Regions from separate parts of the Homo sapiens genome. Here regions 1 and 3 are each linked to region 2. The links come from fine-mapping of genetic effects on gene expression. A gene starts in region 2. Each other region holds a variant in brackets. All regions are shown on one strand. Distances are from middle to middle. Region 1 overlaps ECPAS (Ecm29 proteasome adaptor and scaffold). Region 2 holds the start of ZNF483 (zinc finger protein 483). Region 3 overlaps PTGR1 (prostaglandin reductase 1).

What was found. PIP is the estimated chance that this variant, and not a neighbour inherited with it, causes the effect. A credible set is the group of variants that fine-mapping cannot tell apart.
Region 1: its variant is the best candidate, but not a certain one, in a credible set for the expression of ZNF483 in whole blood (INTERVAL, PIP 0.69).
Region 3: its variant is the best candidate, but not a certain one, in a credible set for the expression of ZNF483 in esophagus mucosa (GTEx, PIP 0.61).

The regions. Positions count from the first base shown.
Region 1 is chr9:111,432,758-111,437,109 of GRCh38, reverse strand. ECPAS (Ecm29 proteasome adaptor and scaffold) reads left to right here. Exons shown (of 50, transcript NM_001364929.1): 7 at 2-170; 8 at 3,738-3,877. Among named protein-coding and RNA genes, the nearest start is that of ECPAS, 49 kb to the left of the region's middle. The variant AG/G (reference allele first, on the strand shown) is at 2,524.
Region 2 is chr9:111,523,505-111,527,856 of GRCh38, reverse strand. It overlaps ZNF483 (zinc finger protein 483), which reads right to left and starts at 2,678. Exons shown (of 6, transcript NM_133464.5): 1 at 2,595-2,678; 2 at 50-589. The coding sequence starts at 461. RefSeq lists enhancers at 1,515-2,014, 2,126-2,325 and a silencer at 2,426-2,775.
Region 3 is chr9:111,565,973-111,569,972 of GRCh38, reverse strand. The region is part of intron 9 of PTGR1 (prostaglandin reductase 1); the gene reads left to right. It also overlaps a transcript of ZNF483 not described here. Among named protein-coding and RNA genes, the nearest start is that of PTGR1, 32 kb to the left of the region's middle. The variant T/G (reference allele first, on the strand shown) is at 1,577.

The DNA of each region.
Region 1 (4,352 bases), 91 kb after region 2:
GTTACGTGTTAAATGAATCCCAGAGTCGCCAAAATTCATCTTCAGCACAGGGTTCTTCTTCAAACAGTGGCGGAGGTTCTGGAATCCCACAGCCTCCTCCGGGAATGAGCTTTTATGCAGCCAAACGAGTTATTGGTGATAACCCATGGACACCTGAACAATTGGAACAGGTATCACACAAGGCTTGCTCATAATAGTAGTTGATTGTGGACACTTTCCCCTATGAAGTTCATGAACCGTATAAAACATAATTCTAGTATATTCAGGCTCTCCAGTGAAATATGTTTGAAAGAAGCAGTTGATGTAATGTGTTCTTTTCATGCTAGTTATTTATTAAGCCCTAGGGGCAGGGAGGAGTGGGACATACTGTTTAGTTTTTCTAATACTGCTTACATATGTCAAGTATAAAGCACAACTCACTTATAAATTGAATATGTTTAACTTTTGTCATTTTATTTTTTTTTATTTTTTAACTTTTGTAATTTTAATTTTTTAATTATAGGTTTAATTTTCATCTAGCTTTTATGGTGCAGTTAAAATACAATTTTTCTTACATTATTCAACTTTTAAGGGCTGTACGTTTTATGTAAAGTGAGGAGCCCCAGCACTTCACAGGTGACAATGTGGGGAAAAGCATGACTCCCTGTTATATTACTTCTTGGGAATTTAAAAATTGGCATTAAGGATTTTATTCTGGATTTAAACAGGACACAGATGTTCTCTGAGCAGCTTTTAAAAATGACTGGTGCTCTACAGAGAAGGTGCCTTACTGTGTCTGTGTCATCAGGCACTTCAGGGAAGAACAGATGAGATCAGTATGTAATTATTTTGGAATTCAAGCAACATGGGTTAGTCTTCTAATCCTTCCTTTATTTCTCCATGGCAGTCTAAATGATTTGATCCCTTTTTTTTTGGGAAATGTAAGTGACCATTGATTAAAACAGTATTCCCAGGAGAGGGGAAAAGAGGCAAGTGGGGCATTCTTGCCATTCACAAATTTATAGAATGTTTTATTGAGTGAGGGATATAATTGATTTGATTTCCTTCTTCATGTTTTATGGATCTTTTTTTTTTTTCCTCCTTAAACTATTATGTAAGTAAGAAAGGTAAAGAATTAACAGAGGCCGGGCGCAGTGGCTAATGCCTGTAATCCCAGCACTTTGGGAGGCCAAAGTGGGCGGATCATGAGGTCAGGAGATCGAGACCATCCTGGCTAACATGGTGAAACCCTGTTTCTTCTTAAAAAAAAAAAAAAAAAAAAAATTAGCTGGGCGTGGTGGCGGGCGCCTGTAGTCCCAGCTATTCAGGAGGCTGAGGTGGGAGAATGGCGTGAACCCAGGAGGCAGAGCTTGCAGTGCGCCGAGATCGTGCCACTGCACTCCAGCCTGGGCGACAGAGCAAGACTCCATCTCAAAAAAAAAAAAAAAAAAGATTTACTGAAGCTACTCTTTATTGAGTGCAATCTATGTGACAGGCACCGTACCGGGTACTTTGAATACAATATCTCATTTAACCCTCGGAGCAACCCAGTAAGGTATAGAAATTGTTAGTTCCATTTTCTGAAAGGCATGGAGGTTTTGAGATTTACCAGGGTCTCACTTTTAGTACCAGGCTTTGAACCTAGGATTATCTAAGGGTTAAAGCTACAAATGCTGGAGAAAAATTGTTATTGTTCAATTACAATCTTAAATTGGTCATTATTTGCCAATATGCCTCTGTATGTGTTTTGTCAGTTTCATAATCTAGTGCTGAAACGAACAGTTTAGTTTCAGGGATGAAAGCTATTTTCCTCTAATTTTAAAATATCTCTTTGTTTTATACTTTTTCTTCCAAGGAAAACATGTTTTTTCCAATTATAAACAATGTAAATATTCAAGTAGTTAAGAATAGTAGAGAAATTAAAAATTAAGGGGCTGGGTGTCGTGGCTCGGGCCTGTAATCCCAGCCCTTTGGGAGGCTGAGGTGGGTGGATCACTTGAGGTCAGGAGTTCGAGACCAGCCTGAGCAACAGAGTGAGACCCCGTCTCTATTAAAAATAGAAAAATTAGCTGGGCGTGGTGGTGCATGCCTGTAACCCTAGCTACTTGGGAAGCTGAGGCATGAAAATCACTTGAACCCAGGAGGTGGGGGTTGCCGTGAGCTGACATTGTGCCATGACACTCCATCCTGGGCGATAGAGCAAGACTCTGTGTAAAAAAAAAAAAAAAAAAAAAGCCAGATGTGGTGGCTCATGCCTGTAATCCCAGCACTTTGGGAGGCCATGTTGGGCAGATCGCTTGAGGTCAGGAGTTCGAGGCTAGCCTGACCAACATGGCAAAACCCCATCTCTACTAAGAAAACAAAAACAAAAATTAGCCGGGCATGGCGGTGTGTGTGCCTGTAGCCCCAGCTGCTGGGGAGGCTGAGGCACGAGAATTGCTTGAACCCAGGAGGCAGAGGTTGCAGTGAGCCAAGATTGCACCACTGCACTCCAGCCTGGGCGACAGAGGGAGACTCTGTCTCAAAAAAAAAAAAAAAAAAAAA[AG/G]TTAACTGGAATCCTGTCACACTAGTTTGTCATCTGTCTACAGTTTTGCTCTGTGCATGTGTGTGTGTTCACCGTTTTAAACAATACATTTCTACTTGTCATGTAATACATTATTTGTAGTTTGCTTTTTATGTTGAATAATATTTTGGATTTTTAAAAAAGTAATTCTTTTTAATGTTTGTTTACAATTATATGTGATATGTTTTAACCAGTCTCCTATTGATGGACATCTGTATCATTTTCAGTTTTCTTTACACATTTTTTGTTTAGTTTATATCTTTGTGTACTTGACTTCCATGTGTCCTTTTTGTGGCTGTACAAATGTTTGAATCTTTTCTGTTGTAGCTGTTGTTAAAAGTAAGTTGTATCGAGCAGGGGAGGGAAGGCAGGCCCTTTTTTGATCTGTTATGCTTTTTTAAGTTGCATTTTTTTCTCATTTAATAATTGTAAACTTTATTAATCCTAGTATATGTAAAAACTGTTATGTGACTGATTTTTTAAGATGAAAATGAAACTTTATTTTTTCAGGTGTATTTATCCTAAATAGAGTCATTTGTAGTGAAATTCATAGCATCTTCACATTGCATGAAGTTCTAAGCAGAATCTCTCTAGTCTGTTTCATTTCAGCCAGTCAATTAAATTGAAAACTGTTTGATTAGAATTTCACTTGCATTGAGTAGCTAACATTTGAAGTCATATCCTTTGTATGTAAGCAATAGAGTGAAACTCCATGGAATGTGAGTTGTTTAGTTCTTTTTTGAACTGTCAGAAAAATCCATGGAGCACTATATTCCTAGTGTACCACCCTCTTATCTGGAGGCCCCAAATTTGGACTTCAAGACTTCATCACTCTAGAGAGGCTGTGTAACCTCACTAGGGAGGCTGTGTATCATAATAATTTTGGAGTCAGAGAGGCTTGGGTTTGAATCCTGCCATCGTCGTTTACCAGTGTCTTAATCTTTTAAGCCTTGCCTCGGTATTTTTAGCTAAAAAATGGGTATAATGATTGATTTATTATTGTGAGGATTAAGTGAAATTATGAATATATGTGCTTTAGTACAGTCCCCGGCACATTGTAAGCCTAAGTAGGAGCTGCTACTGTTGTTACTGCTCATCTTTGGCTTGTGACCACACTGATATGTTAAGCAGTACTTTCAGTGGGTGTCCTTTGCTCCCCTGACTGTTCTTTCTCCTTCCCTTCATTTATCTACAGTGCAAATTGGGAATCGTGAAATTCATAGAAGCTGAACAGGTGCCTGAACTTGAAGCTGTTCTCCACTTGGTGATTGCCTCTAGTGATACACGCCACAGTGTGGCAACGGCAGCAGACCTGGAATTGAAAAGCAAACAGAGGTAACTACTTCCCTGTAAACTTTCAAGATTGAAAGGACTACATTTCTAAAAACTTACTTGACACATTTTTTGTTTAAGGATTTTTTGTAATGAGGCATTCAACTTAGAGGAGATTATTAAATATACCTAGTTTGTAATCAAGTTTGCTAAAGAGTTGAATTCTGTGTAAGACAGAGAAGAAAATCTGTGTGGAGATGCTGTTTATAGCTGCAATAGGTTAGGAATGTCATCACAATCAATGAGACTTTTGGCTAGGTAGATGAACTTAAAGAATTGATGTTAAGAAAAGTGTCAGTTCCAAGAAACTAATTTTTATTTTTTTCTGTGTCTCAAACCATTCGAGATTACTTTTAATAAAGACTATGTATGTATTATGGTTAATACAGTGAAAATTACATTCATGAAAAGAGTTGCTGAATAGATTCTAATTCACACACGAGGAGATACAGATAGGAAATAGACTTATAGAAAATAT
Region 2 (4,352 bases):
GACTTTGAGGCAATGTCTCCCGCTTCCTCCCTCCATCTATAAATCTCACCTTTTTCTTCAAGCATCTGGGTCAAATCTTCTATTAGGGTCACCACTTCCTCACTACTCTCAGGATGTTGTGACTTTACCCAAATCCTGATCTCCCCAGGCAAAATGGTCAGGAACTGCTCAAACACCAGAAGCTCTAAAATCTGTTCTTTCGTGTGAATGTCTGGTCTCAGCCACTGATTGCAGAGCTCCCAGAGTTGACTCAGAGCTTTCCTGGGTCCAGCTACTTCTGAGTAACAAAACCACCTAAACCTCTGTCTGAAAGACTCTGCATCAGCAGCATTTCCTCTTAAAATAGCTTCTTGTTCCCCAGAAGTAACCACTCTTGGGACCTCATTTTGTTCAGTCGAGGCCAGAGTTTGAGGTTCTGGTGAGATGGCTGTCATCTTGTTCAAGGGCACTACAGCTTGCATTGTGTCTCAGGGGCAGGAATCCAGTCCCTTCACACTCTAGTTGAGTATCAGTACAGTCCACCAACAGGCACTATACACAGCCAGGAATATCAAAGGTTCCAGGAATCCAGTTTACAGTCCTGCAGAAACTGTCAAGAAGAAATATTAAGGCATTAAATAAGTAAAAAAACTGTTGTTAGTCCTAAAAACATCGTTCTTGGTTTGGTTCAGAGAAATATATCCACACACATACCAGCAAAGGCCTAGAAAAGCCCTGCTCAATTAAAAGGATAACTTTCTTTCTTTTTTTTTTTGAGACGGAGTTTCGCTCTTGGTGCCCAGGCTGGAGTGAAGTGGTGCGATCTCGGCTCACTGCAACCTCTGCCCCGGCTGGGTTCAAGTGATTCTCCTACCTCAGCCTCTTGAGTAGCTGGGATTATAGGCGCCCACCACCATGCCTGGCTAATTTTTGTATTTTTAGTAGAGACGGGGTTTCGCCATGTTGGCCAGGCTAGTCTTGAACTCCTGACTTCAGGCGATCCACCCACCTCAGCCTCCCAAAGTGTCAGGATTACAGGCGTGAGCCACTGTGCCCAGCCATAATTTTCTTTATAGTCAAAAACCAGGGAGCTACTTAAGGGTTAAGGAAACAGTTGCTTTAGATTGAATACTCCTCCTAAACAAAATGTTATCAGAAAAGGTTCACAAGGGGACCCAGTCACAAAGCTATTTAACAACTCCTACCCTTTCTTAATGAAAGGGCACACATTTCTCACTAGTTGCTCAACTCAGAAGCCCAATTTAATATTTGACTTTCAAATTTCTCTTCCTCCTTACTTCTCCCATCAATCGCCAAGTTCTGGCGATTTTATTTCCTAAGAACCTCTCCATTCTATCCTTCTGAAACTGCCTAAGTACAGGGTTCTTCACTCCAGTCTCACACTGTGGCCAAAAAATTCCTTCTAACATGCAAAATATGATCTTATCACTCCCCGGCTTACAGTCCCTCACCAGCCACCGAACTGTCTCTCGATAAAGTTCACATGCAGGGACCATGGCATTGTGATCTAGAGACACTGTCTGATGACCTCACCTCTTGAGCTCTAGCTACCCGATTGACACTACAGCCATAAATTAGTATCTCCTCTCTCTCTACATACTCTCCTAGCCTTTGCACCAAGGCTATTCCCTCTCCTCGGAATGTTGCTTTCTTTCTCCTACCAAACTTTTATTCGTCTTTAAAGCCTGACTCCTTTCAACTGTCACTTCTGGTGTGATGCTCTGCTTGATCCCAAAGCACTCCTTTGCACACAGACTGCCCTGTGTTGCATTCATTCATTCATTCTATAAGTGACGGAGCAACTACAATGAGCTGGAACGAGACCAGGGGCCATGAGCTGCGGGGCCAGGCGTGGACAGGCCTGAAAGGGTCCTCACGCTCACAGAGGGTCCAGGAAATGACAATACAGCCGGAGCGGGACTACAATGCGACAAGTGAAGGATGTGACAGCCTCGCATTGCAACTACCATACCAATAACAACCCACTTCCGAGTACAGCGCCCGGCACACAGCAGCATGACGTCATTTATTCCTCTGCCAAATATTAGGCGCCCACCACGTACCTGGCGCCGTGCTGAGCACCTGGGGCTCCGCGATGACTAAGACACTCGGCTCCGTCTACAGGGAGTTTACATAGGAGGCCCGGTGAAAATGTGACGCAGCCAGAGGATCTCAACCAGAGGGAAGAAAAAAGGAGAGATTTCACCCCCCAGCGGTCCTCTGGCAATGTCTGGACACATTTTTGGTTAGCTCGACTAGGACGAGAGGTGGTACTGTTATCTAACGGGCAGAACCAGTGACGCTGTTAAACATCCTGCCACAACGGGAGAGCCTCCCCCTCACCGCCACACCACAAACAAAACAAGGCATTATCCCGCCCAAAATGTCAACAGTGCCCAAGTGGCGCAGGGAGGGATGGAGGGAAGCCAACAGCCCCATCCCGCAGCGGAGTGCGCACCTCCCACAGAAGCAGCAGCAGCGCAGCGCACAGCCCGTTGGTAGGCTGCTCCCGGCCCCCATCCCGCCCCAAGTGCGCCCTCGGAGCCGGCGACCCGGCCACGGCCCCGAAACTCGGGGCCCGGGACGACCAGTACCTGCATCAGCATCCGCAAACAGCACCAACGCCACCGCAAAGAGCTTCCAGAAGCTTGTCCCGCAGCGAGTGCGCGCGCAAGCCTGCGGGAACCACTGCGCCTGCGCAGAGGCGCTGAACCGGACTCCCCGAACGCGCTCGTGCAGCTTTCCGAAAGTCCGCGCTTTCCATAGGCTCCCACCTGCCTGTTGCGCATGGTCACTGGGAAGCGGCTAGTGGGCTCGGCTGCAGAATTATTGCTGCGCCAGAGGCTCAGAGGCCTAGAATCGTATGAGGTTTGCAGATCCAGGAGGCTCCATCTGTTTAGTAACCTCAGACCTTCCCTACCCGCTCCCATCACTTCCATTCCCTGAAATCTAAGGTGGAAAAATCCACCGCAGAAGCATATTACCGATGCATTTAATGCAAGCCATAATTAATGCCACAACTTGAGTTAAACACATATTAATCTTATGACTTCCACACCTGCCCCCATGGTCCAGTCCACCCTCATGGCTCACCTGGATTATTGCAATAGCTTCTTGATTATACCTTACTTCTCTTGGCTATTCTCCACAGCCAGACGGACGTTTTAAAAACGTCAAATTATGACCCTCCTTTGCTTAAAACCCTGCAATGGTTTCCCATTTCACTCAGAGTTAAAACCCAAGTCTTTATAGTGGCCTACAAGGCCTGATGGAATCTAGCCCCTGTAACCTCCCGCACCTCTTCCCCACTTTCCTGCTCCAATCTTGATAGACCCCTTCCTCTTCTTGTAACCTGCCAGGTACTTCCGGCTGACCTGCTCCTTCCCTAAGTGGCCATACGGCCCGCTCTCTCATCCCTTCAGGTCTTCTCAATGAAGCTCTCCCACCATTCCACTTAAATAGGAATCCCACCTTACTCTTGTTTCCTCTTCTAACATGCCCTATAGGTTTGTTAATTTTTTTTTTTACTACTTGTCCGCCTTCTCCAGTAGAATACTAATTTCAGAAGAGTAAGTATTTTTATTTCATTTGTTCTAGGTTGTGTGTTTAGGTCCTGGAACAGGACTTGGCCCATGGCAGGCACTCAATAGATATTTGTTGAGCTTATGAATGAGTATTTGCATGGATTATTGGGGGCATTGCAAAAAGGGCCAAAGAACTCCAGAAAAATTGTTTGGAGGGTTCTAATAACTGGATGATCCCTGAAGGGGTGGAGTTAGGAGAGAAAGACTAGATTCATTCTAGACTGAAGGAGCAAGGTGATTCAAGGCCCTGAGACTTCAAAAGGGCAGAGCAAGCTCAACTAAATGAACCACTCCTCTCAAAAGGAGTGGGCTTATCACAGGCAGCAAGTCAAGCTGAAGAGACAGGGCTGAGAATGGCCGGGCGCGGTGGCTCATGCTTGTAATCCCAGCACTTTGGGAGGCTGAGGCGGGTGGATCACCTGAGGTCGGGAGTTTGAGACCAGCCTGACCCACGCGGAGAAACCCTGTCTCTACTAAAAATACAAAAAATTAGCCAGGTGTGGTGGCACATGCCTATAATCCCAGCTACTCGGGAGGCTGAGGCAGGAGAATCACTTGAATCCGGGAGGTGGAGGTTGTGAAGAGCTGAGATCAGGCCATTGCGCTTTAGCCTGAGTAACGAGTGAAACTCCGTCTCAAAAAAAAAAAAAGAGAAAAAAAAGAAACAGGGCTGAGAATGAAGACAAAAGTTTTCTCAGTCCCGAGTCCCATGGCATATTCTCCTTTACCCACCTCCCCTTGGCTGGCTTTAGACGCATCAGGAAGAAG
Region 3 (4,000 bases), 42 kb before region 2:
TTGGGTCATTGTGCTTAGAGTATAAATATTCTTACTTTTCCCATCTTTGAAAGGAAAACAAAACAACCCTCTCTAAAGTTCATTTCCACTGCAAATGCAGGTCCATTTCCCTTCTCTCCCTTTTATAACAAAATACCTGGAAGTGCTGTCTACACTCACTGTCTGCCATTCCTCTCTTTCCATTCTTCCTTAAACCCACATATGAGGCTTTTCAGAGTCTCACTCTGTTGCTCAGGCTGGAGTGCAGTGGCACAATCTCAGCTCACGGCAACCTCCGCCTCCTGGGTTCCAGCAATTCTCATGCCTCAGCCTCCCGAGTAGCTAGGACTACAGGTGTGTACCACCACGCCCAGCTAACTTTTTGTATTTTTAGTAGAGACAGGTTTTCGTCATGTTGGCCAGGCTGGTCTCAAGTGATGCGCCCGCCTCAGTCTCCCAAAGTGCTGGGGTTACAGTTGTGAGCCACCGCACCTGGCCAAAATTAACTTTTGTCAAGGTCACAGGGGACCCTTACATAGTGAAATCCACTGGTTGATTCTTAGCCTCACTTGGCTATGGGAAATATTTCATAGTGATCATTCTCTCCTTGATATGCTTTCTTCCCTTGGCTTCCCTTAACTCTTGGTTTTCCTCACTGATTGGTCCTCCTCAGACTCTTGCTAGCTTTTCTTTACTCCAAATTAATATTAGAGTGCCCCAGGTCATGGTCACTGGGACTTTGCTCTTCTCTATCTACGCTTGAGCTATCCCTTAGTTAGCTCGTCTGGGCTCAGTATGCTGGGAGTTCCCATCTCTATCTCCAGCCTGGCTCTCCTCTTAACTCTAGGCTAGTATGTCCACCTGGATGCCTGATACACATCTCTGACATAACATCTTGAAAACTAAATATATTTTGATCTTTCCTGCTCAACATGCTCCATATTCAGACTTTACTATCTCAGTTATAACAATTCTATACTTCTAGTTTCTCAATCCAAAAGCCTTGGTCATCTTTGATGTCTTTCTGTCGTACCCATGTCTAATCTCTAAGGAGATTCTGGTGGTTCTATCTTCAAAATATATACAGAATCTGAACACTTCTCCCACCTCCCTGCTACCACCCTGGTCCAGGCACCATGCCTTCTAGCCTGGATGCTTGTAGTGTATCGGGGGAACCTGCCCCCAATATTTCAACATAGGTTCTTTCTATTTTTCATAAGTGTTGGCTGGCTGAGAAATAAAGAGAAAGAGTACAAAGAGAGGAATTTTACAGCTGGGCTGCTGGGGGCGACACCACATATCAGTAGGACCGTGATACCCACCTGAGCCACAAAACCAGCAAGTTTTTATTAAGGATTTTAAAAGGGGAGGGGGTGTACGAACAGGGAGTAGGTCACAAAGATCACATGCTTCAAAGGGCAAAAGGCAGAACAAAGATCACATGCTTCTGAGGAAACAGGACAAGGGCAAAATCAGAATTACTGATAAGGGTCTATGTTCACTGTGCACATATTGTCTTGATAAACATCTTCAACAACAGAAAACAGGGTTCGAAAGCAGAGAACCAGTCTGACCACAAATTTACCAGGGCGGAGTT[T/G]TTCCCCCACCCTAATAAGCCTGAGGGTACTGCAGGAGATCAGGGCGTATTTCAGTGCTTATCTCAAATGCATAAGACAGACACTCCCAGAGCAGCCATTTATAGACCTCCCCCAGGAATGCATTCCTTCCCCAGGATATTAATTATTAATATTCCTTGCTAGGAAAAGAATTTAGCAATATCTTCCCTACTTGCACATCCATTTATAGGCTCTCTGCAACAAGAAAAATATGGCTGTGTTTTTCCCAACCCCGCAGGCAGTTAGACCTTATGGTTGTCTTCCCTTGTTCCCTGAAAATCGCTGTTATTCTGTTCTTTTTCAAGATGCACTGATTTCATATTGTTCAAATACATGTTTTACAATCAATTTGTACAGTTAACACAATTATCACAGTGGTCCTGAGGTGACATACATCCTCAGCTTACAAAGATAACAGGATTAAGAGATTAAAGTAAGACAGGCGTAAGAAATTATAAAAGTATTAATTTGGGAACTGATAAATGTCCATATTAAAATGAAATCTTCACAATTTATGTTCCTCTGCCATGGCTCCAGCCAGTCCCTCCGTTTGGGGTCCCTGACTTCCCGCAACAGTAGTGGACTCTACCTGGCCTCCCATCTTTGCATCCCTATAGACAATTCCCAATGTGGTGGCCATAGCGATCTGTTAAGGCACAAATCAAATCCTGCCGTTCTTATGATCCAAACCATGCAAAGCTCTGCATTTCACTTAAAGTAAACCAAAGTGCTAATATTCAGTAAGCTTACACAAAATCTGACCCCTGATATCTCTCTGATTTCATTTCTTAGTATTCATCCTCTTATTTACTTGGCCCAGTCTCCTCCACCCCTCTGTAACTGCTTGCTGAATTCTCTCACGTCCTGCAAGCCTTTGCTAAAAAGTGCCGTCTGGACTGGCACGGTGGTTCACACTTGTAATCCCAGCACTTTGGGAGGCCAAGGCAGGTGGATCACAAGGTCAAGAGATCGAGACCATCTGACCAACATGGTGAAACCCTGTCTCTACTAAAAATACAAAAATTAGCTGGGCATGGTGGCGTGCACCTATAGTCCCAGCTACTTGGGAGGCTGAGGCAGGAGAATCGCTTGAACCTGGGAGGCGGAGGTTGCAGTGAGTCAAGATCGTGCCACTGCACTCCAGCACAGTGACAGAGTACAACTCCATCTCAAAAAAACAAAAAGTGCCTTCCAGGTGAGGCAAGTTTTTAAATGGCCCTATTTTAAGTTGCATTCCCTCTTCATTCTTGATCCTCCATATCCCACGCCCCCCGACTTTTTTTGTTTTTTTTTTTTGAGACAGGGTCTCAGACACCCAGGCTGGAGTGCAGTGCCGTGATCATGGCTCACCACAGCCTTGACCCAGGCTCAGGGGATTCTCCCACCTCAACCTCCTGAGTAGCTGGGACAACAGTCATGTGCCACCACACCTGGCTAGTTTTTTTGTGTTTTTCGTAGAGAAGGGCTTTCACCATGTTGCCCAGGCTCCTATCCTACTTTTATCCATAGCAATTAATCATCTTTTAACATAATATATACTATAATTTACTTATTCATTTATATTTATTGCACATCTCCCTTCTTGAGGATGTAACCTCCATGAAGACAGCATATTCATACATTTTGCTTTCTGGTGTATCTCCAGCCCCCAGAATAGTATATGAAGCAATGTAGGCACTGAATAAATATTGCTGAATAAATGAATGTTAGAGGGGTGCATACATGTGCCACAGCTCTTCCAGGTCCCAAGTAGCAAATAAGACAATCCCTTAGTCCTGTGCTGTGATAATTTTCAAACCTTACACCATGTAAGTTTTAGTCAACAGAAATCTGAACAATCAAGTTGCATTATTTTAGTTTTACAGGGGAAAAATGACATCATGTTTCCTAATCCCTGGCCAATGATCATTTCCCAATTCCAAAGAATAGATTGCTCCTCCAGCAGCCACTGGAGCTTGGCACTCTTCCCAGTATAGCACTTGCAGTGCCGGGCTGGGCTGTCACCAGGGAGCTGAATCTAAGTTGTCCCAGTTGGTGAAATCTAATGTAACCCATCTGTGATCACAGTTGACAACAGGAAACCACTGTGCTGGTGTCCCCAGTGCTTCCCTCTAACAAAGTGAAGCTGATCATAGTTAGTTAGGTGTTTATTTATTTATTTATTTATTTATTTTTGACATGGAGGCTCACTCTGTCGTCCAGGCTGGAGTGCAGTGGCGCGATCTCAGCTCACTGCAACCTCTACTTCCTGGGTTCGAGTGATTCTCCCACTTCAGCCTCCCAAGTAGCTGGGATTACAGGTGCCCGCCACCATTCTCGGCTATTTTTAGTAGAGATGGGGTTTCACGATGTTGGCCAGGCTTGTCTTGAACTCCTGACCTCAAGTGATTCTCCTGCCTCAGCCT